2 separate regions of the Homo sapiens genome follow, and region 1 is linked to region 2. The links come from fine-mapping of genetic effects on gene expression. A gene starts in region 2. The other region holds a variant in brackets. All regions are shown on one strand. Distances are from middle to middle.

Region 1 (16,387 bases), 620 kb after region 2:
CTTGAGGCCAGGAGTTTGAGGCCAACCTGGCCAACATGGAGAAACCTCGTCTCTACTAAAAATACAAAAAAAATTAGCCAGGCATGGTGGTGTGTGCCTGTAATCCCAGCTACTTGGGAGGCTGAGGCACAAGAATTGCTTGAATCTGGGAGGCAGAGGTTGCAGCGAGCTGAGATCTCACCACTACACTCCAGCCTGGATGAGAGAGACAGACTCTGTCTCAAAAAATAAATAAATAAACACTGTGCAGTCCAAACCAAACATGTCTGATATGGTTTGGCTATGTCCCCACCCAAATCTCATCTTGAATTGTAACTCCCACAATTCCCAGTGAGAGGAACCTGGTGGGAGGTGATTGAATTATGGGGGGGCGGGTCTTTCCTGTGCTGTTCTCATGATAGTGAATAAGTTTCATGAGCTCTGATGGTTTTAAAAAGAGGAGTTCCCCTGCACAAGTTATCTCTCTCTTTGCCTGCTGCCATCCATGTAAGACATGCCTTTCCTCCTCCTTGCCTTCTGCTATGATTGTGAGGCCCCCTTAGCCATGTAGAACAGTAAGTCCAATTAAATCTCTTTCTTTTGTAAATTTCCCAGTCTCAGGTATGTCTTTATCAGTAGCGTGAAAACAGACTAATACAATGACTATCAGTTAAATCTGGCCCAAAGAAACAGTTGGCAACCCCACGTAGGAAGTGCTTGCCCAATGCCTCACGGCCTCAGCCTGCACAAAACCACCCACAAGGGTGAGGAAGCCAGTGCTGCCCACTGCCAAGGCTCCCACGCTGTCTCGCCTCAAGGAGCCTGCAAAGCCATCTTAGCAAAGAGCTTGTATCCATAAAGGAAGCATTCTGCTGCTCTGAACTATCATAAATGCCACACGTTTTTAATTAGGAAAGGAAAAATAAAGAAAAACCATCAGTACTAAGGTAGGATTCAAATGGCAGTGGCTCATCAGTTGGGCCCTCACACTCAAGTCATCTGTAATGTATGCCCCACCCCTGAAAATGCTAGTCATATGATGTATGGCATTTATCTGATCCCTTTAAAAAGCAATATTGGCCAGTTGGTTTCAGCCGTCAAGCTTCAAGGCACTTCCTTGGGCCATGGCAGTGGCCAGTGATGGAGAAGCAAGCTGTCAGATGCCCAAGATGCATTTCCTTCCTCCCAGCACTAGGCTACCAGGAAGAGACACAGGCCTCTAACTTTAGGGTTAGCGTTAGTGTCTGGAATGCTCCTGTCTGCTGGTCTCCTAGGTGCTCTACGTTATTACTGATCCATAGAACAGAAGTCTTAGACTGATGACACACATCTCCCTGGGCTAGTCTCTCTCTTACTCAGGGGAGCTGGGTGTCTCCAGGGCCCGGGTAACAGGGTACTCAAAAGAAATCCCAAAGGAAGGCTGCAATTATACTGAGGTGCAATACAAGAAACCACTCTCTTTACTGCAACAAATGCATGCATTTGAAAAGCCCAAGTGCTGACATCCAGCTACCAGGCCCCCAGCAGTGCCTACCCCACAGCGAATGCGGTCCGGCTGCACCACCATCAGGTTCCCAGGTGAAGTCACCGTCGGCAGGTTCTGCTGCTTCGAGTAGGAAACAACCTTCTCGTCCTCAGGCTCAGTGTCAGTGACTGAGTCACAGCCAGAATCTACAAAATAGAGGACACCGCTGAATGGGAACGGCAGGAAGGAGAACTGTGGACATGTTCCACCCCATGAGAGCCCCAAATATTGCAAAATAGGAAACGGCTCTGAATGTCAAACCAATACAAGCAGAAGGGACTGACTCAGGAAATCATGAAAGGCGACCTAATGAAGACAAGCCAAACAGCATGTAGGCCACAGGGCAGAATGACAGCAAGAGGGATGACAATCATGGAGGGGAAGGCCAGAAAGTCTGAGGCTGCAGGTTTAGTCTTAACCAATGGGTTTCCGGAAGCTTTACCTGCAGACTTCCTGCAGGGATGAAGAGGAGTGAGGAAAGGAAGAAGGCCCTTTCCCCTTAGGTGGGTTCAAGTAGGGACTGTCCACTTAAAGGTCATTCTTGGAACATCAAGTAAAACCTGCACTGTCCAGAAAGCCACTAGGTCTCAGGGTTATGGCTAGCCAATGTATCCCCTCTGGAAGCAAAAGTGAAAAGCAATCATTTTCAACAAACTTTAGATAAATCTAACCAGGCTCCACAGGCAACACCTGTACCACGGAAAGATTGGAGCATGCACAGAGTCAGGGCTGGTGAGCAGGGGTGTGCAAATGTGTGTGGTATTGGCACAGAATGAGATGCTGCTGAGAACCTACCAGAGCTCTAAGGCAGGGGCTCTTAACCAGAATCTGTTAATTGATAGACCTACCTCTGAGGTTGTGTGCAAGATTGTGTGTGTGTGTGTGTGTGTGCATGCACATGTGTATGCATTTGCCTGCACTTTTCTGGAGATAGTTCAAAGCATTCATCAGATCCCCAAAGAGGGACAGAATCCCAAAATGGTTAAGAATGGTTGAGAGGGCTGGGCGTGGTGGCCTATAATCCCAGCACTTTGGGAGGCCAAGGAAGGCGGATCACCTGAGGTCAGGAGTTTGAGACTAGCCTGACCAACATGGTGAAACCCCGTCTCTACTAAAAATACAAAATTAGCCAGGTGTGGTGGCACATGCATGTAATCCCAGCTACTTGGGAGGCTGAGGCAGGAGAATCACTTGAACCTGGGAGGCAGAGGTTGCAGTGAGCCAAGATTGCACCACTGCACTCCAGCCTGGGTAACAAGAGTGAAACTCCATCTCAAAAAAAAAAAAAAAAAATAGAATGGTTGAGAGGAGAGAGAAGTTTCATCAGTCTATTTTTGGGGTTTGCTCTTATTCATTCCTTAACCACTTATACAAGCAGCCAAATATGTTAGGTACTTGAGGGAACCCGAGGACGAATCAGACACTAACCCTGCCTTCAGAGAGTCCATCATCTAAAAGGACAGGAGAGGTGAGAAGCAAGGGTTAGTTTGGCTGATTCCTGCAGCCTGGTTTCCTGGAAGAAAATTGGCCTCTGCAGAGTTTGTGGCAACTGTCCTGGTAGAATGCTAGGGTTACGAAACAGCTGCTGATAGGCACCCTGGAAAGCTGTAACCACAGGCTTTCACCCTAGACCCCAGGTCATGCTAGGAAGAGGCTGTGCTTCCACAACCATAAAGGCCGAGTTGGGGGCAGGGCTACAGGGCCTCAGTACCACCGTATCCTATTGCTGTAACTATAAGACCCTGACCCCTGGCCTACTCAGGCCAGCAGAGGGGCCGGGGCTTCTTCCCTAGCCATGCAGCTTAAAATCTCAGTAGCCTAGAGTGGAGGTCCCGTCCCAGAGCCTGGCATCTGACTGCTGAATGTCTATGGGCTGCCCTAGAGAGCAACAGGCAATGAGGCATGTACTCTTGCCACTATTCCCCCTCCATGATTTTTCCCAAGACATGCTACTCCAGAATGCCTGTTTGAATGCTGCCAGATCTTTGTCCTTGTCTGTACGTCAGGCAGAATCTAGTGTTAAGAGGTAGAGCAAAGGACCCAGAGTGTTCTACGCAAGGCGATATGGTTTTTAGCTGGGCATCAGAACCATCGGTCTCCTCCAACTCTCCTTTCTAATTCTCCTGGCTCTCCCCTCAATCCCTGCAAAAACTAACACAGTAGGCTGCCGTTTTCTCTGCTGAATATGCCCTTCCCCACACCCTTCTCTCCTTGACTGATCACTTCTAAAACAGCCAGGGCCCATCACCCTGGACAGAGCTATACATGCCACCCAAGCAACCCTCACTCAGCACAGGAGCTTGTAATGGAAAAAGCCAAAAACATCAGGGACAATTCACACAGTCTTCTTCTTAAGGATTTTATGAAGTTTCAGTTAATTATTATTAGATTCCTGGACATACCATTTAAAAAAATATTTCTGAGGTTCTTCTGGGATGAGAAAGTAATCCCATGGACTTGAAACATTCAGTTACTTAAAATAGAAAGAAGCTCCTTGAAACTATTTCTTGCTCCAGAATTTTTTAGATACTATTCTGAGTGGCCACAGTGGCTGGAGTGGCTCAAACTCTTACCAATTACCTATTCTAGTATATCACACAGGTATAACCTCTTTGGGATGGACCCACAGTGCAGTCTACCATTGTTTCAACAAAGACAAATCCTTTATTTCTCCCAAATTACTGGCCCACTAGTCTATATTTTAAGAAATTTTATGAAACACATTGAAGTGAAAAGTCTACGGTAAGAATTCATATTAAAGTGAGAACTCTGTGCTAAGAAAATCTCAATGCAGCCAGGTGTGGTAGCTCACACCTGTAATCCCAGCACTTTGGGAGGCTGAGGTGGGAGGATCACTTAAGGCCAGGAGTTCAAGACCAGCTTGGGCAACATAGTAAAACTCTGTCTCTACCAAAAAAAAAAAAAACAAAATGCAATTTTAATAGAAAAATATAAAGTATTGAAATTGTCTTTAAAGAAGTAAAAAACCTGACTAAATCAATAACCATGAAAAAAAGTAATAACCATGAAAAAACACTCCTCAGTTTTAAAATAATATTTAGAGTAAAAGCCACACAACCTTCTTTGAATTGAATTTAACATTTTATTTGGGACAATGTTCTTCTTTATAATACTAATTATTTCCTACCCTGGAAAACTCCATTTATATAGGTATTACGTCTTCTAGTAAAGTTTTAAAAAATAATAAAGGATAGTCCTATTTTATATTAAAGTTATTAAAAAACAGAATGGATAGAGCAATTGAATACAAGAGATGGTCCAGAATTAAGGCTTCATTCCCATAAAAACTTAATATGGGATTTTAAAAAGCATTAAAAACCAGTACAGATCTGTTCTGCGAAAGACATTGTCAAAAGAATGCAGAGATAAGCGATCGTCTGGGAGAAAATATTGCAAAAGACATATCTAATAAAATACTTGTACCCAAAATATACAAAGAACTCTTAAAACTCAACAAGCAGAAAACGAAAAGCCTGATTTTAAAAAAGAGCAAAAGACCTGAACAGACACTTCACCAAATAAGACACATGGATGGCAAAGAAGCCATCTGTATATCTTGAAAAGATGGTCCACATCATATGTCATCAGGGAAACGCAAATTAAAACAGCCATGAAATAGCACTACAAATCTATGAGAATGGGCAGAAGCGAGAACACTGACAACACCAAATGCTGGTCAGGAAGTGGAGCAACAAGAACTTGCATCCTTTCCCGAGGTTCTTCTCCTTTTCTGGTAGGAATGCATCCTTTGCTGGCAGGAATGCAAAATGGTACAGCCACTTTGGAAGACAGACTTACAAAACTAAACACAAGCTTACTAAACAATCCAGCAATCATGCTCCTCAGTATTTACCAAAAAGAATTGAAAACTTACAGTCACACAAAAACCTGCACACAAATGTTTATAGCAGCTTTGTTCAAAACAGCCAAAACTTGGAAGTGACCAAGATGTCCTTCAGTAGGTGAATGGATAAAGTGCGGTACACCCAGACAATACAATACTATTCTGCACCAAAAAGAAATGAGCAGGCAAGCCCTGAAATGCCATGGAGAAAACCTGAATGCATATTACTAAGTGAAAGAAGTCACTCTGAGTCAGGCATGGTGGCTCACCCCTGTAATCCCAGCACTTTGGGAGGCCAAGGTAGTTGGATCACCTGAGGTCAGGAGTTCGAGACCAGCCTGGCCAACATGGTGAAACCCTGTTTCTACTGAAAATACAAAAATTAGCCAGCCATGAGGCCGAGAGGCTAATACAAAAATTAGCCTCTCATGAGGCTGAGGCAGGAGAATCACTTGAACCTGGGAGGTGAAGGTTGCAGTGAGCTGAGATTGCGCCACTGCACTTCAGCCTGGGAAACGAGCAAAACTCCATCTAAAAAAAAAAAAGCCAATCTGAAAACACACTGTAGGATTCCAACTATATGACATTCTGGAAAAGGCAGAACTATGGATCACTGATTGCCAGTGGTTAGGAGGAAAGAAAGAATGAATAGGCAGAGCACAGAGGCTTTTTAGGGCAATGAAACTACTCTGTATGATACTATACTGGTGGGTGCATGTTATTAGACATTTGTCCACACCAATAGAGTATACAACAGTAGGTGAATCCTAATATAAACTCTGGCCTTCGGGTGAGTGATAATGATGCATCAATGTAGATTCATCAGTGGTAACAAATGTGCCACTCTGGTGCTGGATGTTGATGGGGGTGGGAGGAGGCTGTGTGTACATAGGGGCAGAGCAGACATGGAACTTTGCATGCTTTCCACTTAATTTTGCTATGAACCTAAAACTGCTCTAAAATATAAAATCTACTCAAAAATATTAGCCAGGCATGGTGGCATGTGCCTGCAGTCCCAGCTACTTGGGAGGCTGAGGTGGGAGGGTCGCTTGAGTCCAGGAAGTGGAGGTTGCAGATTGTGCCACTGCACTCCAGCCTGGGAGACAGAGCGAGACACTGAGAAAAGGAAAGGACAGGATAGGACAGGACAGGACAGGACAGGACAGGACAGGACAGGAAAGGAAAGGGAAAAGGGAAAGGGAAAGGAAAGGGAAAGGAGAGGGGAAAGTGAGGGGTACTATTTAGATTCTTCCTAATTCTTATAACTCCAAAATAAAATTTAGATGGATTAGAGATTAAAATGCAAAATAAATAAACAAATTTTAAAAATTAAAAAGAAAATACATGTGAACATTTTATCAGTGGTTTGGGAAAATATTTGTTAAACAAACAAAAATCACAATCTAAATGAGCAAGACTTGATAATATAAATTTAAAACTTTAGTAAACAAACAAAAAACTAAAATCAAAATGCTGTAGCAGCATCATTCCTAATAGTCAAAAGGTGGAAACAGCCCAAATGTCCATCAACTGATGAATGGATAAACAAAATGAGGTATGTCCATATAATGGAACATTACTCAGCAATAAAGAGAAATAAATTTCAAAACAATATGTTGTTTTATATAAATAGAGACACATTTTCTTATTATAATAGATAAATAAGGCCGGGCGCAGTGGCTCACACCTGTAATCCCTGCACTTTTGGGAGGCCAAGGCGGGTGGATCACCTGAGGTCAGGAGCTCGAGATCAGCCTGGCCAACATGGTGAAACCCTATCTCTACTAAAAATACAAAAAATTAGCCAGGCATGGTGGTGGGCGCCTGTATTCTCAACTACTCAAGAGGCTGAGGCAGGAGAATTGCTTGAACCCAGGAGGCAGAGATTGCAGTGAGCCAAGATCGCGCCACTGCACTCCAGCCTGGGCAACAAGAGGGAAACTCCGGCCGGGCGCGGTGGCTCACGCCTGTAATCCCAGCACTTTGGGAGGCCGAGGCGGGTGGATCATGAGGTCAGGAGATCGAGACCATCCTGGCTAACAAGGTGAAACCCCGTCTCTACTAAAAATACAAAAAAAATTAGCCGGGCGCGGTGGCGGGCGCCTGTAGTCCCAGCTACTCGGGAGGCTGAGGCAGGAGAATGGCGTGAACCGGGGAAGCGGAGCTTGCAGTGAGCCGAGATTGCGCCACTGCAGTCCGCAGTCCCGCCTGGGCGACAGAGCGAGACTCCGTCTCAAAAAAAAAAAAAAAAAAAAAAAAAAAAAGAGGGAAACTCCATCTCAATAAATAAGTAAATTAAATAGATAAATAAAAATGAATGATGTACTGATAAATGCTACAGCATGCATGAATCTTGAAAACATTATGCTAAGTGAAAGAAGATAGTCATAAAAGACCACAAATTATATGATTCCAAATATATGTCCAGGACAGGCAAATCTATAGAGACAGAAAGTAGATTAGTGGTTGCTTTGGGCTGGGGAGATTGGCAGGATTGTGGGACAATAGCTAAGAGGTATGAAATTTCTTTCTGAGGTGATGAAAATATTCTAAAATTGATTGAAAATACTCTAAAATGGATTATGGTGAATATTGCACAAATCTGTGAATATACGAAAAAAACATTGAATTGTACACTTTAAATGGATAAATTGATGGTATGTGAATTATACCTCAACAAAGAAACCAATGGCAGGCTGGGCGCGGTGGCTCATACCTGTAATCCCAACACTTTGGTAGGTTGAGGCAGGTGGATCACCTGAGGTCAGGAGTTCAAGACCAGCCTGGCCAACATGGTGAAACTCCGTCTCTACTAAAAATGCAAAAATTAGCCGGGCATGGTGGTATACGCCTGTAATCCCAGCTTCTCAGGAGGCTGAGGCAGGAGAATCACTTGAACCCAGGAGGCAGAAGTTGCAGTGAGTCGAGATCGCACCACTGTACTCCAGCCTGGGCAACAGAGTGAGACTCCGTCAAAAAAAAAAAAAAAAAAAAAAAAAAAGAAACCCATTGGCAAATCACAAACAGTTTAAAAATTTGAAGTAAAAATGATAAGGGGCTAATCTTCTTAATATACGAAGATGTCACGAAATCTCTTTTAAAATACCCCAAGACCAATAAGAAGACAATTCATAAAAGAAGGAATACAAATTACCTCCCCATTCAAACAAATATCATTCATTCTCACTAGTCATCATGAGAATGCAAATGAAAATACAATGCTGTCTTGCTATTTTAGCTTTTCAAATTAGAAAATGCTGTGAAGTACACCCAATAAACTTTAAACTTTAAACAGTGCAGGGTTTAAAGGTGACTGGAGGACAGATACCCCCCAGCTGCTGAGGGAAGTACAAACTGCACAATCTTTCTGGAAAGCCATGTGTCCACACCCAGAGAAAGAGAAGGCCTTGAAAATGTTCACAGCTTTTGCCACATAATTCTATTTCCAGAAGTCTCTCTTAAGGAGGAAAATAAAAGTCCAAAATAAAGATTCTGAACCAAGAGGCTTTGCATCAGTGAAAAAACTGAAAACAACCTAAAAGACTATTAAAAACATTATTTTCAAAGAGTTCTAAGTGACATGGGTAAAAGCTTACGGCATGCGAAGCGAAAAAGCAGGATATAAAATTATATCTCAGATGCTGCAGGATTTCAATTATATAAAAAATGCATTTTAAAAGGTCAGAAGAAAATGTGTGGCTGGATTCTGCATGCTTCTTTCCTCTCTCCCTCCCTCCTTCCTTCTACCATTTTATGTATTTTAGTATTTTCCATAGTGAGAAAGCATTTCTTTGATAATGGGGGTAGGGTAAGGGAAAAAGTAGCAACTGAATCTATTAGCTAATCATTTTTTAAAAATAGGCACAAAACCAATGCAATCTATTAGCTAATCATTTTTTTAAAATAGGCACAAAACCAATGCAATCTATTAGCTAATAATTTTGCCCAAGAGCCCAGCTTGACACAAATGAGATTGATGCTAATAGTGCGGCACTTGGCAGATATTTCCCAGCATTCAGACAGGCCATACAAAATAAACAATTCCTTCCAGTAGGTCTATTCATTTAGTCACCTTAGATAGCCACCAGCAGCTCACTCATTTCAGGAAGTTAGGCAGGATGTCATTCATTCTGCAGGGTTATTCTGGTGGCGCTGATTGACAAGCCACAGTGGCCTCTTCCACAATGCACTACGGAGAAGGCAGAGTCCCAACAGGGCCAGGGTCCAAGCACTTCAGCAGATTAAAAGTTTCCTTCAAAGGAAATGCCCACTCAGACATAAGCACTGCTCTTACCCACCTGACAGAGTGGGGTGGTCTCAGACCTTCCCACCTGAACATGTAGATCCCTCTTGGACCACTTCC[C/T]GCTTTGAAGATAATACCACCTTTGCTGTCCTGAGACTCGAATAATAATGTTTGAGCGAAGGTACTCTGAAAACCCCAGGGATCCTCCTCAGTGTAAAGTATTATTAAGATGCCAGTAGCATCCTCACTGCTTTAAAATTTCACAATATCCTCTCAGCTTTTATGAAGTCTAGAGAAACTCTGGAGAAATGATTGAAAAAGACTTTCTGTGTGCATCTGGTTCTTCAAAGTGTCATCTATAAAGGATCCATGTAATAAATACTCCTTGAATTCTATGGCAGGAAAAGTCTGTCTCTTCAGAGAACTTGAGTGCTTTCTCTTATCAGATAAAAGGAACGAGCGAACATTGGTATATTTCACCTTTGGCCCTTGCTCGGTGACAAATTTGGTTCTTAGCCTCTTTCACACTCCTGTCCAGGTCCTTGGTCTTGCCTATTTCTCTTTTTTATATTGTGTTTAATTTTTAAGACTGCTTCAAATACTTTGGAGATCCAGTCAGTATATGAGTCACTGTCTCTCAAACCAGTGTCTGGTCTGCAGAAAGTCCTTAGATACGTTCTTTATGAGAATCGGTGTCTGGGCTCTTCATTTAGATCATAATGCCTTTTAAATGGGATGCAAGAACTTTTCAGATTATATGAATGACCACGTTATAAAGGGGGTCCTGCCACAGGAGTCTGAGCCTGTGTTTGTGTCTGCAATCTCTTTGCAGGTAGGTCATGCTATGCTAAATGTCAGAGGTTACTGAGGAAAGAAGGGGGCAGGATGATATGGAAATGAGACATTTGTGCCAACTGAACACAAGGAGATTTTCCTGTACACTACTTTAAATAGAGAAATGTGGTGGGAGATCCAAGCCCCAAAATAACACAGGGGAGACGGAGCAAGACTCCCCACAGATTGGCGAGTACCACAGCCTCCACACAGTGCACAGGACGCTGCCACAATAAACCAGCATCCTCTATGACAAAATGAACGTGGTCGATTTGCATTTTATTTATTTTATACCTGTATTTGTGTCTTGTTCATTTGTTTTGCTTTCGGAGTTGGGACAGAACAATAAACATAAAGAATTAAATATGTATGACTATAGAACATACAAATAAAAAAAGAGTTAAATAGGCCGGGCGAGGTGGCTCATGCCTGTAATCCCAGCACTTTGGGAGGCCGAGGCGGGAGGATCACAAGGTCAGGAGATCGAGACCATCCTGGCTAACATGGTGAAACCCCGTCTCTACTAAAAATACAAAAAATTAGCCGGGCGTGGTAGCAGGCGCCTGTAGTCCCAGCTACTCGGGAGGCTGAGGCAGGAGAATGGCGTGAACCTGGGAGGCGGAGCTTGCAGTGAGCCGAGATCGCACCATTGTACTCCAGCCTGGGCAACAGAGTGAGACTCCATCTCAAACAAACAAACAAAAAAAAGAGTTAAATATGTCTATGCATATTTAAACAACATCAAAATCATTAATTAGTCGACACTAAAGCTTCATAATATTTATTTCCCTTAAGGGGAATCTATACACTATTTGGGTCTGAAAAAAACTATGAATTTTAAATGTAATAAATATATGTATGCATTTGGACCCACAACTAAGCTACATGGAGTAGCTAATGCTAGGTAAGAGCTGGTGACAGTCATTATTATTACTTATAATGATAATGATCAAAGTTCCCATTTGTTAAATATTATGGTGACTGCTCAATAGTCCTAATCTCATTTAATCCTCAGAACAACCCTGTAAAATAGGAATCAATGCTTATTCCCATTTTATAGATGAAAATCCAGTGCCCAGAAGGAATGAAATTACCCAGCCAAGGTCAAGCAGCAGCACGGAGCAGAGGTAGGAATCCACTCCCCACCCCCAGGTGCCACTGCCCTGCCTCCCTTCTAGATGTGGCCCAGGGCAGTGGAAGGTATCACTTCCTATTCCTGGTCTGGGGTTGTGACTCTGAAGTTCATGAGACACAACCTGGAGCTTTTGCTGTCACTGACGCCTAAAGGTGCTGCCTTGTTCCGAGCAATGCTGCCCTGGTTAGGTATGCTGTGACCTGCCACCATGGCAAATGGGCACATTCCAAGGATGGGGTTTAAGTCAAGAAATATTTCATGCCAATGGAACCATCCATGGTCTTCCATGCCCTAGTGGCCTCCAACCCAAGGCTGCACTCTCCCATTTTCCAACTGAGCTTTCACACCACAGTGCTCACTGCCTCTTTTCACTATACAATGTCTGGTACTCAGTTGGCGCTCTGGAAGGGGTGTGGAAAAGAATGACGTTTGCTGATCTTGGAGAATATTTTTCAGAGGACACAAACTACTCTTGTAAGGCAGTATTAAGCCTTGAGAAATGCATAAACAAGCATGGTTCTTAAAAACAACCAGAACTGCCATTTCTTGAGCGGTTACAATATGCTAGGAACTACGCAAAACACAACATAAATGATTTCATTTTATCACAGCAACTACATTGGTATCATTCCACACATTTTACAGCCAAAATCTAAGTACACTGTCCAAGTCACCCAGTGTGTGCTGTAAGGCAACCTGACAACAATTTAACCAAACCCATGCTGTCATCCATCTGCCAGGGTTTCCCATACCATGAGCCATGCACCCTGGTGAGACCAGGATGATTCTAGAGTGTACAGCGTCAAGTTGGATGATAAAGGATTTTTTAAGAAAAAAAAAAATAAAAGTGTACAGCAAACATTCCAAAACACTGAACCACACATTAAGAAAGCAGTCCCCTTTCAAATCTTTCAGTTCCACTTAAATCAAAAAGAAAAGACTTCAACCAGTAAAAGAATGCCTTCAACACCTCTTTACCATGCATTTCTCCTTTTGCGCCATAGAGGGAACAGGGCCTTAAGCCCACAGGCTTCTGTAGGAATCTGTGTACCACAGAATTTAATACCAATGTGTACTTTTTATTATCTATATTTTTATATCTAACTTCTATCTATATCAAGAGATACTGGTTTTTTCATGTAGAGTGGCAAAGTTTCCTTTTAAAATATACTTACTTAGAAAATATGAATTGACTTAAAGAAAATATTAACTTAATAGCACAACGAAAAAATTTTGGAAAGAGTGGTGATGGCTGCGCAACATTGTGAAAGTAATTAATGCCAATGAATTGTATACTTTAAATTGGTTAAAATGACAAATACTCTGTTACCTACATTTTACCACAATTTTTAAAAATTAACCGCATACACCAAAAACTGCTGAGTTGTACACTTAAAATGCATGAATTGTATGGTACATGAATTTAAGAAAATAGTAGCACTATGGTACAAACATAAGCCAAAAACGAGGTTGGTGGTTCTCAAATGACTGAAGTTTGGGAAATGCTGCATTATGCTATTTTGCTTCCATTTTGTTAAACTAATTATTTTTTAGTTTAAATAAGGTAAAGTCAAGGTGGGAAGGCAGGATGAAGGCCTGTAGCATAAACATGCTGGATTCTTTCTCTAAGTTTTAGATACAAGGAAAAAGAAAGTGAGCAGAGAAGGAAACTAAGGAGATAAGTTTCAACTGAGAATTAAGAGCTTGCCACCAATCTACTCAAAAATGGAATTAAACAGAAACAGTCACTGGGGCCAGTCAGGGGAACCTGTGTGTCTCTGTGCTGGGACAAAGTAGGGGGGTATCGTGGTTCATGTCCAAGACTTCCAGTGTGGCTGATGAAAAAAAGACTGAAGAAGATTCAAAGATTTCTTAGAAGGATGCAGATGAGCAACCTAAGTATTGGGGTTCACAGAAGAAAGGGCTGTGTTTCCTCTGCATTTGTATTTTAAGTTGAGGACTCAGATTTAACCACCACACGGGGCCAGGCGCAGTGGCTCACACCTGTAATCCCAGCACTTTGGGAGACCAAGACAGGCAGATCACTTGAGGTCAGGAGTTTGAGACTAGCCTGGCCAACATGGTGAAACCCCATCTCTACTAAAAATATACAAAAATTTGCCAGGCGTGGTGGCACACGCCTGTAATCCCAGCTACTCAGGAGGCTGAGACAGGAGAATTGCTTGAACTCGGGAAGCGGAGGCTGCAGTGAGCTGACATAGAACCACTGCACTCCAGCCTGGGTGACAGAATGAGACTCCATCTCAAAAATAAAATAAAATTTAACCACCACACAAATGGGGCAGGAATATAGAGTTACCCAAGGTCTGGAGAAACTTCCAGAGGCTTGTCCACTCAGGATGAAATTTCTCAGCTGTTACGATGTTCATTCATCCTACCTAAGCCACAGTGATGAAACCACGAAACAGCTATTTTTCAAAGCCCCGAATAAAATGTTCCAAAACCTGAGCTTACTACGAAGTTTCCTAGTCACATAGCAAGTGTCTACGGAACACATCTGCCACGTTCTAGCACTGGCCTGGATCCCACAGGAGAATTCCAGAAGTGTGTCCTGTACAGCTGTGTCCCTTAAGGAGCTTCCAATGAATTGGGAAGATGAGGCCCCACATGAAAAAACAGGGAGGCCGGGCGCGGTGGCTCATACCTGTAATCCAAGTGCTTTGGGAAGCCGAGTCGGGAGGATTGCTTGAGCTCAGGAGTTTGAGACCAGCCTGGGCAGCATTATGAGACGCTGTCTCTACCAAAAATACAAAAAATTAGCTGGGTGTGGTGGTGTGTGCTTGTGGTCCCAGCTAATCAGGAGACGGAGGCTGCAGTGAGCTGAGATCGCACCATTGCACTCCAGCCTGGGTGACAGAGCAAGACCCTGTCTCAAAAAAACACAAAAAACAAACAAAAAAAAAACCAGAGAGAATTATGTGATACCTTATCACCAGGCACCAACTTGTACGATGAGACTATAAATAGAACTAAATTAAGTTAATGTTTCTAAGTGTTTAGAAAAGTGGGACCAGGTGCGGTAGCTCATGCCTGTAATCCCAGCACTTTGGGAGGCCGAGGTGGGCGGATCCTAAGGTCAGGAGTTCGAGACCAGCCTGGCCAATATGGTAAAATCCCGTCTCTACTAAAAATACAAAAATTAGCCGGGCGTGGTGGCACGCGCCTGTAGTCCCAGCTACTCGGGAAGCTGAGGCAGGAGAATAACTTGAACCTGGGAGGTGGAGGTTGCGCCACTGACTCCAGCCTGGGTGACTAAGCAAGACTCCATCAAAAAAAAAAAAAAAAAAAGAGAGAGAGAGAGAGACAGAAAAGTGCTTGCACATGAAAAATTCAGAAGTTGAGAAAAACTTCCTAAGAGATGAAGAAGGCAAGCTCCCCTCGGTCAAATAGCACTGGGATGTTGAACTTACCCTTCTGTGAAAAAGGCATGATATTTTCTATTTAAAGTAATAAAATAATTCATTGTTCATTTCCTTATCCCTTCAACAAATAAATACTCATTATTTATCAATGAATAATAAATATTCAAAGCCTATCCCAGGCTCCCCAAGAAATGGAAGAGTGAGAAAATTTCTGTCCTCACTGGTACTGGAGAGACCACACAGGAGAGCTGGGAGGACTTTTCTGGCAGAGGAAAAGCATGATTAAAGGCACAAAGGCATGAGCGCAAATGATGTGTCTGGGCCACAAGAAACACCTTCTATATGGGGGAAGGGCTGTGTGAGAGGGGAAGGGAGTTTGGGTGTCTGAGAGGACCCTGATTCCCATGCAGGGTGTATATTGGAGACCTGTCAGCAAAATGTATTCAGGAGAAAAGGAAATTCTGTAAAATACAGATTGAAAATGCAGTTTATTTTTCTTAAGTTGAAAACTGTCTTTGCTTGTTTTTGAAATAATTCCAGACATTCAGGCAGAATGTATCAGCTCTTTTGTAAAGTCTGGTCATAACTGAGAACACGAGTGCCTGACCACCCATCCCACCCCGAGCAAGCGCTGCCTCCAGATGCATAAAATAACACAAACGAGTGGCTAACAAAGTGTTACCAAGTCAACATCCTGCCCTATCTGCTTTCAAGAACAAATAAGTTGCTATAATTAACCAATGTCTGAAAAGGTACCACAAGCATGGTTTACAGTATGCTTAGAAAATGATTCTGAAGTAGGCTATAAACATGTCTCTTGTTTACACTGCATTTATCTTGTTTACACTGGCTATTTCCTCAGAAATTCAGCATCACAGCTATTGTCATGTCCTTAGAAAGCACAAAAGGAAACCTCAGACCTGGCCTTGTGTCCAGATTCCCAGTGTGTGGACCCCAGTGAAGGAGCCTTTGCTCTACTGAAAATATTTGTGGGTTCACAGGGTTGGAGGTGAGAGGCTTGCAATGGTGGGACTCAAACCTTAAGTTTCAATAACCCTCACCTTCCCCCACCTTCCTGGCAAACATCAAGACTGCTTTTTCATTTTAGTCATCACCATGGGTCTTTCTTCTTTGCTCACCCACCTTGGTCATTGGGTAGTGAATTTCCCGTCCAACTAACCCCTTTCACTTACAAAGCTCCCAACAGAGAGTGACAGGTATACCCAACCCACAAGTCACCAGCTACCCCCAAAGTCACATACAGTCATCATACTGATGGTAAGAGGGTCAGTGGAATGCCAAGTTCTTACCCACCAGATGTCTTACTGACACTGAAGTCAGGGGAGGGAGGAGGTGACAATTATTTAGAAGTGTTAGTGTGAGTTAATTAAAGTGACATCAATCATTGTTCTCATCACCGTCG
Region 2 (16,387 bases):
AAACCACAGCAAGTAAGTGAGAAGATTTCAGGGTGTGATGAGTGCTCTAAAGGAAACAAATAGGATGGGATGATAGAGAAGGACTTTGGTGGGGATGAAGGGTATAAGCAGAGCAGTCAGGGAAGGCCTAAGGAGATAACATTTAAGCTGATATTTTAAAAATGATTTAACATTAGAATTGCATTCAGTTGCGTGTAACAGAAACCTAACCACAGTAGCTTAACCAAATAGGGATTATTTTTCACATGTCTCCAAGTCCAGAGGAGGCAGTCCAAGTTTGGTGCAAGAGGCCTACTAACTTCATCCAATTTCTTTGCGATCTCTAAAGAGACTTCTATTTTCTAGCCCAGTGGCTTTCAAATTTCAGCAGGTATAAAAATCACCTGAAGGGCTTGTTGAAACACAGATTGCTGGGCCCCACCCCCAGGGTTTCTGATTCAGAAATTATCAGGGTGATGCCTGATAATTTGCACATGTAAGTTCCCTGGTGATGCTGAGACGGCTGATCTGGGGACCACACTTTGAGAACCTCAGTTCTAGCTTCACAACCATTTTCATGGCTTAAAAATGTAGAAAAGGAAGGGGAAGACAGACGATGCCAACTGGTTCCATTCTTTTAAGAAAGCTTGCCAAGAAGCCATGCCAGTAACTTCTACTTATATCCCTTTGGCCAGAACTGTATCACTCCTAGCCATAAGGGAGCCTGGGAGATCAAGTATTTTAAATGGACATATTGCTCTCCCAACTAAAGTCAGTATCCTATTGGTAAGGAAGGAGGAGAGGGTGGCTGTTGGGTAGGCAAATCAGAGTCTGCCACAGATGAGAGGAAGCCAGTCATGCAAAGACCAGTGGCAAAAAGCATTTGAGGTAGAGGGAACTGCAACTGTGAAGTCCTTCTGTCCAAAAAGAGACTTGCCTGGGGAAGGGAGAGTAGTAGCACATAAGTCTGGAGAGGTAGATAGGACCAGATCACGTAGGTCTTGGTAAAGAGTTTGGATTTTATTTACAGTGCAACAGGAAATCATTGAAAAGTTTTAAGCAACTGAATAAAATAATATTTTTCTTTTTTATATTTGAAATTACTTTAAAAACTATTTTTTACAGATACTCATTATTTTATATAAGTGCATAAATGTCATCATGTTTTTTGAAATGCAGGTTTTTTCTTTTTTTCGCTTGAGTCTCTGTCCACTGCTCTCCTCTCCCCACCCACATTGTTCACTTCTTCTACCTTCTTACCAACCATGTTGCATGTATCCTTTCACTTCACCAACATTCTCAAATATTCATATGCCAACACACACACACATGCACATATATGCATCTGTTACTGTCTTAGAAAAATGAGATGACATATGTTTTTCTGCATATTGTTTTTTTCCTTCAAAAATAGTAAAACACCTCCAAGTGAACTATTCATGTTTCCTAAAGGATGCATAACATTCTACAGTGTGGGCAGGACCACTGCATACACTTAAGGAGGTTATGCACCACATGACTCGAAAGTTTATGTGCAAGGACCCCTAGAGTTGTGTAGTATGTAGAAACCTTGGTTGTAAATGTTATTTATTACAGCTTATTCAAACCATTCCCCTACTGATGGGAATTTCTTTTAGTCCATTTGGTTGACATGTTGTTTATTTTTCCTATATCCTTGCTACTTTTGTGTCTATGAGTTCTATTACTGAAAGAGGAGTGTTGAAGTTACCAACTGTAATTATAAGTTTCTCTATGTCTTTTTTTTTGAGAAGGAGTCTCATTCTGCCACTCAGGTTGGAGTTCAGTGGCACAATCTCAACTCACTGCAACCTCCACCTCCAAGGTTTAAGCGATTCTCCTGCCTCAGCCTCCTGAGTAGCTGGGATTACAGGCGCCTGCCACAATGCCTGGCTGATTTTTGTACTTTTAGTAGAGATGAGGTTTCACCATGTTGGCCAGGGAGTTTATTTCTTCTTTCAGTTTTGTTAGTTTTTGTTTAATGTATTTTAAGTTCTATTGTTAGATGGACACACATTTAGGATTTATGTCTCCTTAATGAATTAACTCTTTTATCATTATACAATGTCCCTCTTTAGTCTCAGTAATTTTCTTTGCTCTGAAGTCTGTTTTGTCTGATGTTAATGTAGCTACTCCAGCTTTCTTTTGATTAGGGTTTGTGTGGTATACATATTTTCATTTTTTTATTTTTAACATACCTATATAATTATAGTTGAAATGAGTTTCTTGTAGACAGCATATACCTGAGTTACGGTTTTTGTTTTGTTTTGAGATGAAGTCTCGCTCTGTCGCCAGGCTGGAGTGCAGTGGTGCAATTTCGGCTCACTGCAACCTCCGACTCCTGGGTTCAAGCAATTCTCCTGCCTCAGCCTCCCAAGTACCTGGGATTACAGGTGTGCACCACCATGCCCAGCTGATTTTTTGTATTTTTAGTAGAGCTGGGGTTTCACCATGTTGACCAGGATGGTCTTGATCTCCTGACCTCATGATCTGCCCACCTCAGGCTCCCAAAGTGCTGGGATTACAGGCGTGAGCCACCATGCCTGGCCTATGATATTTTTTATACCCTCTGATAATCTTTTTTAATTGGTGTGTTTAGACAATTTACACTTAATGTAATTGTTGGTATGTTTGGACTTAGGTCTATCATTTCATTATTTGCATTTCATTTGCTCTGTTTCAGTTCCACTGTTTCCTCTTTCCTGCTTTCTCAGGTTATTTGAACATTTCTTAGTATTTCATTTTAATGTATCTATTATATTTTTGACTATATGTTTTTGTATATATTTTTTAAGTTTTTCTAGGGATTATCCTAATACACATTTAACTTTTCACAGCCTACACAGAATCTACTTTTTACCACTTTTAAGTGGAATGTAGAAATCTTACCACATATTCTTTTGTACTTCTGCCTTTATGGTATAATTGTCTAATATATTGTATCTGTTGAAGTATATGCTGAAAACACTAGAAGACAATGTTCACATTTTTGCTTTTAACCATCAAATGTATTTTAAAGAACTCAAGTGGAAAAGAATGTTTACCCAAACATTTATCACTCTGTTGTTCTTCCTTCATTCCTGATGTGCTAAGTTTCCTTCTGGTATTATTTCCCTTCTGTTTAAAAAATGTCCTTTAGCAATTCTTTTAGAGCAGGTTTACTGACAACAAGTCTTTGTTTTCTTTCATCTTCAAATGTCTTTAATTTCATTTCTGAATGATATTTTTGCAGGATTAGAATTCTGGGCCTGACAGTTCTTTTCTCTCAGGACTTAAAAACAAATTTCAACCTTTATTTTAGATTAAGGGGGCATATGTGTAGGTTTGTTACATGGATATATTGAATGATGCTGAGGTTGCAGATATGAATGAGCCCATCACTCAGGTAGTGAGGATAGTAACCAACAGTTAGTTTTTCAGTCCTTCCCCCCTTCTCTCCCTCCCTGCTCTAGTAGTACCCAGTGTCTATTGTTGCCATCTTTATGTCCATGAGTACCCAATGTTTTGCTCCCACTTGTGAGAATGTGATATTTGATTTTCTGTTCCTGCATTAATTCACTTAGGATAATGGTCTCCAGCTACAACCATGTTGCTGCAGAGGACATGATTTCATTCTTTTCTGTGGCACCTCAGCATTTAAAAAATTTTGTTCTATTTCTCTCTGGTCTTCTTGGTTTCTGGTGAGAGACCCACCATACGTTGAATTTTTCATTCTTCCCCTATAAGTAATGTTTTGTTTCTCTCTGGTTGTTTTCAATTTTTTTCTCTAGTTTTTTAGAAGGGTTTTTTGTGTGTGTGTTTGTTTTTGAGACAGAGTCTTGCTCTGTCACCCAGGATGGAGTGCAATGGCTTAATCTTGGCTCACTGCAACCTCCACCTCCTACGTTCCAGCAGTTCTTCTGCCTCAGCCTCCCAAGTAGCTGGGATAACAGGTGCACCTCACCACGCCCAGCTAATTTTTGTATTTTTAGTAGAGATGGGGTTTCACCATGTTGTCCAGGCTGGTCTCAAACTCCTGGCCTCAAGTGATCCACTCACCTTGGTCTCCCAAAGTGCTGGTATTACAGGTTTGAGCGACTGTGCCCAGCCTAGTTTTTAGCAGTTTTATTATGTGTGTGGGTATAGATTTCTTTGGGTTTATCCTTGTTAGCATCACCTGAGTTTCTGAATCTGTTTTTGTCTTTTCTCAAATTAGAGGAATTTTCAGCCATTATTCTCCCAAATATTTCTGTACCATATTCTTTCTCCTTTCCTTCAGAGACTCCAATGACATAAGCATTAGACCACTGGGTATTATCCCACAGGTCTCCAAGTCTCTGTTCATTTGTTTCCAACTTTTTTTCAGGTTGTACTATTTCTATTGATCTACCTTGAAGTTCACTGACTACTCTGACATCTCCATTCTCCTAATGAGCCCATCCCATGAGTGTTTTTAAGTTTTGTTTTTTTCTATCTTTTTAGTTATAAATTTTCCATCTAATTTCTTCTTTATGTATTCTATTTATTTGCTGAAACTTCTTATCTTTCCATTCATTTCAAGAAAGTTTTCTCTTCTTGGAGCATTACTATAATAGCTATTTTAAAGTCTTGTCAAATAATTCTCTGTCATCTTAGTGTTAGTGTTTGTTGATTGTCTTTCCCATGAGAATTGAGATTTGTTTTTGTTCTTCATAGGCTGAGTAATTTGGGTTGTATCCAGGGCAATTTGAATATGCTGTATGTTAGGAGATCTACGTCTTACTTAAATCTTTTGGAGAATGTTGATGTTTTTTGTTGTAGCCGGGAACCAATCTGGTTGAGTTCAGGCTGCAAGTTCTGGCTAGCCTTTTGTGGGTTGTGGTTTCGATGTCAGGTCCATTTTCAAAGTCTTTCTGTGCTACTCAGATCTGTCACATATGTGTGCTGCTTAGTGGCCAGCCACTGCTCTGGGCAGTTCTGAGTTTTTAGTCTTTTCAGAGTGGATCTATGTATGCACAACTCAGAGGTAAGCCCAGTTGTTCATAAGCACTTTGTGGGATCATTTTCCAAAGCTGCTCCTCCCTCTCCACAGTCTCCCCAGTACTTTTCAGTTCCCTGGGCCTCCCTTTTTCAGTTCTCCAGCCATAAAGCTGTGGTTTTTAGTTACACCTCTTTGCCCACACTTCCCATTATTGTACCTCCATCCAGAGTAAGGCAGTGGGAAGACAAAGGAAAACAAACAACCACAGCTGTTCTGATCAGATAAGAGGCTTTCCTTTCCTAAGTTTTCGGCACCTGTTGGCCCCTATTACCACTGTTGTGGCTACCACCAATCTGCTGAAGAATGCCTGGGGGCTACAGCAGGAGAGAGAGAAAAGAAAGAAAAAATAAATAAATGGGAATTGCCTCACTCTGATCATTAGGAGACTCCTTTGCTGTTCCTTATAACAAAAGGGATTCTCCTAGGGCTCTCCCTTTCTGTGCCCTGGTGCCCATTTCTAGATTTCAGGCTTCCTGAATCCAAGCTGGGGAATCCTGGAGGAAGAAGGGGTAACTCACCACCAGTTTGGTGATATTTCAAATTAAGGTCTTCCTCCCCACTTGCCTGCTACTATTTACTTTACATTGTCTTCAAATAGCTGCTCATGCAGTCTGTCCAGATTTTATAGTTACATTCGGTGGGAGAGACAGGGTGAAGCTGGCTTAATCCATTGTGTTAGGGTTCTCCAGAGAAACAGAACCAACAGAATGTGCATGTGCATATGTGTGTATTTACCTATCTATCTGCATATATATGTGTGTATATGCATATACACAGAGATACAGATATATAAACTAAGGAATTATATCTATATCTATAGTTATATATCTATATCTTACATGATCATAAAGGCTGAGGAGTCCCAAGATCTGCTGTCAGGAGCTGGAGACCAGGAGAGTTGACAGGTAATTCCAGTCTGAAAACCGGCAGGCTCAAGATGCAAGAAGAGCTGATGTTTCAGTTTGAGTCTGAAGGCCAGGAAAGACCTATGTCCCAGCTCAAATAAGTTGGGCAGCAGGAATTCTCTCTTCCTCGACAAAGGGTCAATCTTTTTATTCTATTCAGGCCTTAAACTGATTGGATGAGGACCACTCACATTAGGGAGGGCAATCCACTTTACTTACTCCATGATTCAAATGTTTATCACATCCAAAAACACTCTCACAGACACACCCAGAATAATATTTGACCAAATATCTGGCACCCAATCTTGGCCCAGTCAAGTTGACACATAAAATTAACTGTCACATTCATCTTATCCAGAAATAGAATCTTATATAGCATTTTAAAATTTGGAATATTTTTCATAAATTACAGATTACAAATATCTGTGATTACAAATACCTGGAACTAATTTTTTATAAAGTAGACTTAAAAACTATCCTTAACATTGTTCAATATGCTAAAACAGTTTGGAAATGTGATCTAGGAACTCTTGACTATCAAGCTCAGATGTGATTTACCTTTTTATGACCACTCCAACTACTAGGTGATGAATATTTTCAAGAAGGACAGGAGCAGTTGCAATAAGACCAGTTAAGAGACTACTGTACAAGTGTAACTGAGAGATGGTGGATATGAATAGTAGTTGCAATGAGTTGAATACTACAAATAGCAACAAATCAAGAACAGAGAACCAGAGCCCAGGGCTGTTGGCTTCCAGGCCTTTGCATCCAGTAGAATATGCTGCTGCCATTAAAAGGAATCCTGGATGTCCTGTTATGGAATGTTCGCCGGAATATTCTGTATGACAAAATCTAGGTACACAACAGAGCATGTAACATACTACCATTTGTACATAAAATGAGGCAAGGGAGTTTCATATATATATATATATATATATATATATATATACATGGTTATAAATACCTGGATATCCCTGGAAGGCTACAAAAGAAAAGAGTAATGGTGTCACCTCTGGAAAAAACTGGGACCAGGGAGGGAAAGAAACTTGCTAGTCACTGTATAGTCTTCTATGGCTTGAAATCTTCTAGCTTTTTCATGCATTCATTTAAAAAACTTAAACAATTAAAAAATCAGTGCTTTTCCACGGCGTAAAGTTCTGTGAGTTACAGAAGATTTCCAGAGAATCTGGTCCCACCTCATCTCTTGTCAAATCTACCTGTGCCTTATGCTGCAGTCACAAAGGACTCTGCAGTTTCCCTATTCTGCCCTTTATATAGATGTTCTGCCTTTTTTACTTCCATTCTTTCATACCATTGGTGATCAGTGCTTCCTTGACTTAGAACGTCTTTCCTATCTCCTCTTCACTCCAGACATACAGTGGCCTCTATTTTCATTCCAAACATGCCTTCACTTTAGAGTCTTTGCGTGTACCAATTCCCTCGGCCTGGAATGCTCAGCCACCTGATACGTACCTACTCTCTCACTTCCCTCAGGCCTTTGCATGCCTTACCTTATCATGAAACAAAGTCCACCCATTTCTTTTTTTTTTTTTTTTTTCCGAGACACAGTCTGGCTCTGTCACCCAGGCTGGAGTATAGTGGCGCGATCTCGGCTCACTGCAACCACCGCCTCCCGGGCTCAAGCAATTCTTCTGCCTCAGCCTACCGAGTAGCTGGGATTATAGGCGCCCACCACCACACCTGGCTAATTTTTGTATTTTTAGTAGATACGGGGTTTCACCATGTTGGCCAGGCTGTTCTCGAACTCTCGACCTTAGGTAATCTGCTGGCCTCAGCCTCCCAAAGTGATGGGATTACAGGCATGAGCCACCACACCCAGCCCACCCATGGTCACTTTCTAGCCTTTTTTTCTGTTTATTTTTCTTCACATCACTTGTCACCATGTGATATGTTTTTTTGTTGTTGTTCATTGTATCTCTATTTCTAGTGGAATAAAAACTCTATGAGAGCAGAGACTTTAGGAGTTAAGTAAATACCTTAACTGTGTCCACCTTGCTCTAAAGGAATTAAATAAATCATAGTAAGTTTGAACTTTGCATTTTAAGGATTTACTATCTAAGACACACTATGGCAAAATATATGTGTAAAATGAACATTAATCCATAAAAGGAAATGGACATTGAAGTCTTCTCATCACAAGGCAAGTCCAGAAAACAATAATGATTTCTGAACAAATATATCCCAGTGAACAATATTTTCAAAGTAGAAGCGATAAATACAGTCTACTTCTTATACTAATGATTATAGTCTGTGCCCCATTTTTCTGAAAGTGTTCTTAAATAGGCCCTGGACAGTTATTTAGAAGCCAAATTATTATAAAGTTGTTTAATAGTCATGAAATGGAACCCAAGGATGTAGACACTATTTAAATGCCATTAAAAATGGCATGAAGCTTTTAGCCTGATGTGTCTACCTTCACTCTAGAGGACCCTGCAACTGAGAGACAGGCCAGGGCAGCCTTCTCCCTGGACTATGTCGGGTTAGGCCGGGATCTGCCAACTTCAGCTTCTGAGTTTCCCTTTTCTTGCCTTTGGTTCCTGCGGGCCTGCTCTCCTGGGTATAAGCATCGTCTATGGATAGGGTACGGCTCATATACATGTCTGCTGATGATCTTCAAATGAAGATGCCACCCAGAATCACATAAAATGTATTTATCACTTTGTAGTAGTTCTTTATCATCATGTATCTTTTTGGACAAAGGATTCAAAGTAAAAGGGGTGAAGTTTTAAAAATATTTACGTTTTACTATTAAGAGATTGATCTCCAGTCTCAGAAAAGTGGACAGTCTCACTGTCCTAGGGTTACCATCCACCTCTTTTGTGATAATCCACCAAAGAGGTTAAAATACAATTGATTAGGTTTCCTCTAATCACATTTCAGCCCCCATATCACCTCAATTGACGTCGGAGTGTTCTCACAGTTTTGCAGTTTCCTGATTTACGAGCACAGATGGTTAATTACATCCACCATGGGTTTGACAAGCAAGGTTACTAGAAGTAATCTTAAATGTCTTCATTCAAAGCTCTTGGGAATCCCTACAGCAACGAAAATAAGGAGGGGGAAGAGATTAATTAGGTTTCTAGAAGAAAGGTGGAGTTTGAGGTGGAACTTAAAAAAAGAGCATAATTTCACAGGAAAAAAAAAACGCTTCAGGGGCTGCAGAAACAGCTAAAGCACATTTGGAGGGCCTGATGATCCACGGAGCAGCCCCTGGGATGGAAGCGGTTGGTGCAACGTGAAGTAAGGTAAACCGAATCCATGCCGTGAAGACTTTTAAACGCCAAACTGAGGCGTCGGAACTTTGCTCCGCGGGCATCGAGGAGCCATCGAAGGTTCTCAGCAGGTGAGTGGCCTAACTGGATTGGTCACTGCAGTGATCCACCTTACAATTTCTCCGGCGCTCTCTGCCGACCTCAGCCGGCGATCAGGCCGGCTTCGCAGTAGGTGGCGGCTGAGCGCCCCGGCAACCGAAGCGCCAGGCCAGCCCAGGCCACGCCGCGCCGTGCGGGATGCTGACCGTACCCAGGCGGGAGCCGCCGCGCCGCCGCCTGGCGCTGCACCTGGGCCCGGCCCGGCCGCCAATTGGACGGCTCGGGGCGACCCCGCTGTATCGCGAGACGAGATTGGCAGCGGCGGGGCCTCAAGTGCCCCCGCGCTGGCTTTGTATGCGGAGCCGCCTGCCGGTCCTTTAACAATGGGCGGCGCGAGCGTCCAGGCGCTGGGCTCTAGCTGAGGCCGGCGCTTAGCGGCCCACTGTCCGCAGCATGAGCGGGGCCGGCGTCCGCCGCACGACGGCGGGGCTGGGGCTGTGAGGGCCGCGGTTCCGGGTAAGGGAGCCAGCGTGGGGCCGGGCGGCCCGGCAGGCCTGGGGTAGGCGTGGGGCAGCGGACCCTCCCGGGGTGAGGCGCAGAGCCTGGCTGGCCCGGCCTTTTGTTCCCCTTTCTGAGGCCGCGCGGAACGTGCGTTTCTCGGGGCTCCCGGGGAGGAGCAGGCTCCCGACGTCCATGCGGAGACCCGCGGCCAGGCAGACGCTCACCCCCGGGCTTTGCCATGGGAGCGTTTCCCCTCAGCGGGGCTATGAGCGTGTCACCTCTCCCCGCTCCTCAGGGAGGGCGGGAGAACTCCAGCCCCGGACGCAGGGAGCCCCAGCCGGGCCTCCCCCAGCTCTTCCCGAGCTCGCACCTGGCTCCGCGCTTTGGCAACTCAGGGCCCGAGTGGATCCCCTTTTGCCCGACACATAGTCGAGCAGTGAGTCTCAGAGTCCTTCGGCTCTTCCTGCGGGGGCAGACCCGGCTTCGCGTGTGGCGTTGGGGGAAACGACTCGGGTCGGGCTGGGTTGAGGAAGAGTCAAGTGAAGATGAGCAGCCACACCGGGTGGCCTGAGGTCACACCCCCCGGGGAGGGGGCGCAGAGGGTCGCGGGGGAGCCGGCAGTGACCGCGCCTGGGGTGTGTCTTACAGACTCGAGTTGCCGCGTCGGGCTGGGCGCGCCGCCGGGTCCCATGGAGCTGGAGGGGCAGTGGTGGCGAGGACAGCTGGCCGCCGATATTCACCAAGCGCTTCGCTACAAGGTAACTCCGAGGCCCGGCCTGCCTTCTCCTTCTGTGTGTCGCGCCAGTTGTTCTGAATCTCGGCTCTCTAGAAGGTCTAGTCAGGTTCTTTACTCACTATCTTCCGGGCCAGAAAAGGCGAGTTTGCTCATTTGCTCAAGGTTAATTAACTTCTTGGCTCCTTCTCTGGGATGTATCAAAAGAACCTGCAACCTGAATGAGTAGGGAGATGGTAGTTGGGCCAGGGAAGGTGGAAAGGGGCGTTCTGGCTTCCAGGTGGGTCATGAATTTGATCTTGTATTTTAAAAGATATATACACTGAATTTTTGTTGGGCAGAACAGCCCTCTTTGTTCGAGAGTTGCCGTTGCATGCAGCCAGTTTAAGTCGCTTTTGTACATAAATTCCTCAGCCTTTCCGCTAACTTGCCGTGAGACGTGGACAAGTGAAATTTCTGTTTCTTGATTTCCTCATCTGTAAAATGAGGAATAATGAGTGTGCCTTATGATTCTGGCGATTGTGAAACTTAAGTTAGTACCGTACATGTGCTTAGAAACTGCTCTTGGTATATAGTAAGCACTAAGTGATAACTTCTTATCACTTACCCCTCAGGATTTGGGCTGTTCAAAAGCCCTAAAGTGGAGGGAGTTGGCTGCCCCTTCCTGCTGATATCAAAGGCAGAAAGTAGACTTAATAGATATTGGAAAAAAATACTTTTCCAACACAAAGCAAAGTCTGTGTATTGTTGCTATTAAGTAACGGTTTTACTCTGCATGTGGCAAGGCAGATTAATGAGACATTTCTGCCTCTTCGATAACCAAAAGAGAGACCAGATCCAAAATGATCTCTAGCTTAACTCAGTTTCACCTTGGATAAAGAAAGCCATTTGTTAAATGTAGAAAATTGAGAAAGAAGCAAAACAGCTGACTTTCAATAAAAAGGATTCTGACTCTTGGGGTTGAGATCCTGGAATGATAATGAACTTTTATCTTGAGTTTCTGACCAGGTCAAGTAGATTGGAAAACCTAATTCTGACTTAAATTGTTACCCTTTTCTAGGCCTGAGATTTCTAAATGCTACTTAACTAATTCTGACATTCAGTCTCTTAGATTCACTAAAATACAGTTCAGCCCCCTAGGAGATGGTTTATACCACATAAAAATTCTAACTAATGGGATCTCTGGAGTGTTAGTTAGGAAAGAGTTGCAGTTTCTTGGAAAATTGTCCAGATACACTTTTGATCTTTTTTTTTTTTGGCAGATGTCATCTTTCAATGTGAAATGTTTTCTTTTTTAAAAAAATTAATATAGTTGCACATATTTTGAAAAGTGTTTTAAGTGTCAGCCTTTTTATCCCTCTGGTATGTAGTGAAATTAATTAGTTGATATTAAGAGTACTTTTTTTTTGAGTTGGAGTTTCACCTGACCTCAGGTGATCCACCTGCCTCGGCCTCCTAAAGTGCTGGGATTACAGGCATGAGCCACTGCGCCCAGCCAAGAGTATATTTTTTAATTGGCATGAAACTTAAAAGGTTTTTCTTGGTGATTTCCATACTTTTCAATCATTTTATGTGTAGATCATTTTAATTCGTGAGTGATTATCTGCATTTTGTCAATTGAGTTTGGACATGGGTTCTTTGTTTTTTTGTTTTTTCTCCTAGATTTAGATTTGTTGAAGGCTTTTGTGGATTAGTTTCTGGAGCATCCAAGGCATAAGACCCAACCTTATACTCACTCAAGTTGCTTATGAACTATCAGAGGACAAGGTAGCACAGGGTGTGAAGGAATGCCACTGAAAGTTTTATTGGGCCACCTATGGCCTACTGCCCTGGGTTGTCTTTATGTTTAAGCATTATGCAAACCATGGTTCTTACTGGCAACACTTTATACAAGAATTTACATTAATCTGTAAAACTTAAACTTGTGGAACTGGAGAGACCACTGTTTGTAATACACTGAAGGAAACTTAAAATGGACTTTTCTCCTAGAAAAGACGTGGTAATTCCAGGCTATTAATTGGTGATTCAGTCGGATAGTCATCTGTTTTTCTTCAACATGTTGATCATTTATGACATACATGATATCATGCCAGGTGTTAGAGCAATAACAGTGAACGAGACATGATCCTTGCCTTCATAGTCTAACCTTATCTATAATTTAGAGCATCCACATTTAGGTCTTCCTTTGGGCAGTTGCCATTGAGATACTGCAGAAGGTATTCTATGTTTAGGCCCTAGGTTTGTGGAGAAATATTTGGTGTGACTAGCATTGTGTTTACTAGGGAAGAGTGAAAATGACAATGAATGGAAATCATGCCAACTATCCACTCCCTCAAAAAACCCCTACAAAGCAGCTGTCACCTTACACCCTTTTGTCTCCTTTCTTCTCATTATTTTGCTGTGTATAGTTAGTGTCATAGGCTGTTTGGGAAAGTGTTTTTAGGAGCCTTAATGACAAATGGGAACAATTCTAGCTTTGTGAGAAACATTAAGAAAGTGAAGTCCATCAGTGTTTTCCAGGTGTTTCCAGGGAGTCTTTAAGACCATGTTCAGGCCACTTTTTGGGAAAACCTGCTCTGGTTTTGCCTTTTTTCCCCAACTCCCTAATCCCTGAGCTAAGTTAGATTTTCTTCCTAGGTGTTGCCATAATAACCTGTGGTGACTATATTGTGTGATAAGCTCTGTATTTGATTCACCTGCTAGAGATAGGCTTGAGACTGTTTTTCCAGCTTTTATGCCTGGGTTAGTATAGTGTCTGCTGCATGGGAGATGCTCAATAAATGTCACATGGTGGCAGCAAAGGTAAAGTTGCAACTCACTTACACCATTGTAAAGATCCAAAGAAAGAGTTAAGGAGAAAAGAAAAATCCTAGGAACTACATGAGAAATCGGCATCTTCCCTTTATGTGGAAAAAAAAAATTTTTTTGGCCAGGCATGGTGGCTCACACCTGTAATCTCAACACTTTGGGAGGCTGAAAGCAGGTGGATCACTTGAGTCCATGAGCTGGAGACCAGCCTGGGCAACATAGCGAGACCCTGTTGTACAGAAACTAACTGGGCGTGGCAGTGAGCGCTTGTAGTCCCAGCTACTCCAGAGGTTGAGGTGGTTGGATTGCTTGAGCCTGGGAGGTGGAGGGTGCAGTGAGCCAAGATGGCACCACTGTACTCCAGCCTGGGCTACAGGAAACCCTGTCTCAAAAAACAACAATTGATGTATTCTTTGGCTACACTACTAAATTACATTGACTATTTTATCCATTTATCTTAGGTAATATTAAGTTAGGTGAATATATAACTTCCCTTTTTTGTTTATCGTAAAATGTATCAACATAAAACTTTTTTTCCCCAACTTTTAAGTTCAGGGGTACGTGTGCAGGATGTGCAGGTTTGTTACATAGGTAAACGTTTGCCATGGTGGCTTACTGCACAGATCATCCCATCACCTAGGTATTAATCCCAGCATCCACTAGCTATTCTTCCTGATCCTCTTCCTCCTCCCACCCCCACCCTCCGACAGGCCCCAGTGTGTGTTGTTCCCCGCAACATGTGTCCATGTGTTCTCATCATTTAGCTCCCACTTATAAGTGAGAACATGTGGTATTTGGTTTTCTTTTCCTGCATTAGTTTGCTAAGGATAATGGCCTCCAGCTCCATCCATCTCTCTGCAAAGGACGTGATCTTGTTCCTTTTCATGGCTGCACAGTATTCCATGGTCTGTATGTACCACATTTTATCCAGTCTATCATTGATGGGCATTTAGGTTGATTCCATGTCTTTGCTCTTGTGAATAGTGCTTCAGTGAACATACACATGCATGTGTCTTTATAGTAGAATGATTTATATTCCTTTGGTTATATACCCAGTAATGAGATTGCTAGGTAAAAGGGTATTTCTGCCTCTAGGTCTTTGAGGAATCACCACACTGTCTTCCACAATGGTTGAACTAATTTACACTCCCACCAACAGTGTAAAAGCGTTCCTTTTTCTCCACAACCTTGCCAGCAGCTGTCATAACATAAAACTTACCATTCTAACCATTTTTAACTGTACAGTTCAGTGACATTAGGTACATTTGCATTGTTGTCACCACTATCTATCTTTAGAACTTTTTCATCTTCCCAAACTGAAACTCCATACCCATTGAACGATTACTCCCCAATTTCCCACCCTCTAGCTTCTGATAACCACTATTCTACTTTGTCCCTGTAAATAGGACTATTCTAGGTAACTCATTAAGTGGAATCATACAATAAATGTTCTTTCATGACTTTTTTCATTTAGCATACTGTCTCCAAGGTTCAACCATGTAGTATATTATAAGAATTTTCTAAGGCTGAATAATACTCCATGTATATACCACATTTTGTTTATCCATTCATCTGCTGGTGGGCATTTGCATTGTTTCCACCTTTTGGTTATTGTGAGTAATCCTGTTTTGAACATGTGTGTACAAATCTCTCTTCAAGTCCCTGCTTTCAGTTCTTTTGAGTATGTACCTAAACGTGGAATTGCTGGATCATGTGGTAACTCTGTTTAATTTATTGAGGGATTGCCATACTGTTATCTGTAACAACTACATCATTTTACATTCCCACCAGGAATGCACAAGGATTCCAGTTTCTCCACATTCAAGCTAACACTTATGATTATCTGGTTTTGTTTTGTTTTGTTTTGTTTTTTGATAATAGCAATCCAACTAGGTGTGAAGTGCTGTTAGTGGTTTTGATTTGCATTTCCTAATAATTAGTGATGCTGAACAAACATCTTTTTCATGTTTTATGATATTTTTTGGGCATTTGTGTGTATCTTCTTTGGAGAAATGTCTATTCAAATCCTTTGCCCATTTTTATAATTAGGTTTTTTGGTTGTTATCCAGTTGTATAAGTTATTTATATAATCTAGCTATTTACCCCTTATCAGATATGATTATAAATACTTTCATCCATTCTGCGGGTTGCCCTTTTACTCTGTTGATAGCATCTTTTGTTAAACAAAAGTTTTTAATTTTGTTAAAGTCCCATTTCTCTTTTCTTTTTCTTTTTCTTTTTTTTTTTTTTTTTTGCAGGGTAGGGGAAGTTCTGCTTTTGGTATCGTATCCCTGTTACTTCTTCTATTGTGATACCTGTTGGGTTTAGTATCAGTATTATGCTGATCTTATAAAATGAATTTGGAAGCTTTCCATCTTTCTCTATGCTCTGGAAATATTTTAATAGTATAGAATTTTTCCAGTTTTTAAAAAACAAGTTGATATAATATAGTCCTGAGATTGAAGTGATTTTAGGTGTATGAGAGGATGATGGGAAAGGGCAGATCATAAAACTGTTAAAAGGGAAACAAAATTAGAAGATACTAGAGGAAAGGTACTGCTTTCTACACTGTTGCAAGTATAATACTGTATGCAGCATATCCACTTATCTATTACCTTCTAACCAAAAGTTCTGAGCATCTTGGAGAGGTGTAGGGGCGTGTGTGTGGTATGTGGTTGGTTTGTCAGGGATGTTTTTCTGAAAACACCTGGTAGGGAAAACAGGATTCTCTTATTAAAAATCTTTGTAGGATGTATCCATTCTAGAAAGCAAGAAACAAGAACATCTATAATTGTTCACATCAGAAGTGGTTAAGAGTAAGGAGAAAAATTTGGTTTTAAATGTCATTCATTATCCCTCCACTTAACTTTTTCATTTTTGTATTCCAGTCAAGAAAAGTATGTTTTAGGCACTTGTAATACTAATATATTGGAAAAACAATGTTAAGTCATTGCCTTGTGGGGATACGCCTACAGATAGGTCAGACTAAATGTTGTTCCTTTTGACTTAGGAGCTGAAGTTGCCCTCCTATAAAGGCCAGTCCCCTCAGTTAAGTCTCAGACGGTATTTTGCTGACTTGATTGCCATTGTGAGCAATCGCTTCACACTCTGC

Direction of the effects. Alleles are on the strand shown, and positions count from the first base shown. SD is a standard deviation of normalised expression in the study named.
In carriers of allele C in region 1, the expression in NK cells of the gene that starts at base 9,613 in region 2 tends to be lower than with T alone (large effect, 2.0 SD a copy in Gilchrist 2021).

What was found.
Region 1: its variant is fine-mapped to the expression of CCNJ in NK cells (Gilchrist 2021, PIP 0.95).

What each region holds. Positions count from the first base shown.
Region 1 is chr10:96,655,285-96,671,671 of GRCh38, forward strand. PIK3AP1 (phosphoinositide-3-kinase adaptor protein 1) reads right to left here. Exons shown (of 17, transcript NM_152309.3): 3 at 1,514-1,650. Among named protein-coding and RNA genes, the nearest start is that of PIK3AP1, 57 kb to the right of the region's middle. RefSeq lists enhancers at 2,669-2,728, 9,406-9,475 and a silencer at 11,586-11,655. The variant C/T (reference allele first, on the strand shown) is at 9,733.
Region 2 is chr10:96,033,971-96,050,357 of GRCh38, forward strand. It overlaps CCNJ (cyclin J), which reads left to right and starts at 9,613. Exons shown (of 6, transcript NM_001134375.2): 1 at 9,613-9,749; 2 at 10,383-10,492; 3 at 16,286-16,387. The coding sequence starts at 10,424. The region is part of intron 2 of ENTPD1-AS1 (ENTPD1 antisense RNA 1); the gene reads right to left. RefSeq lists silencers at 9,002-9,196, 9,324-9,893.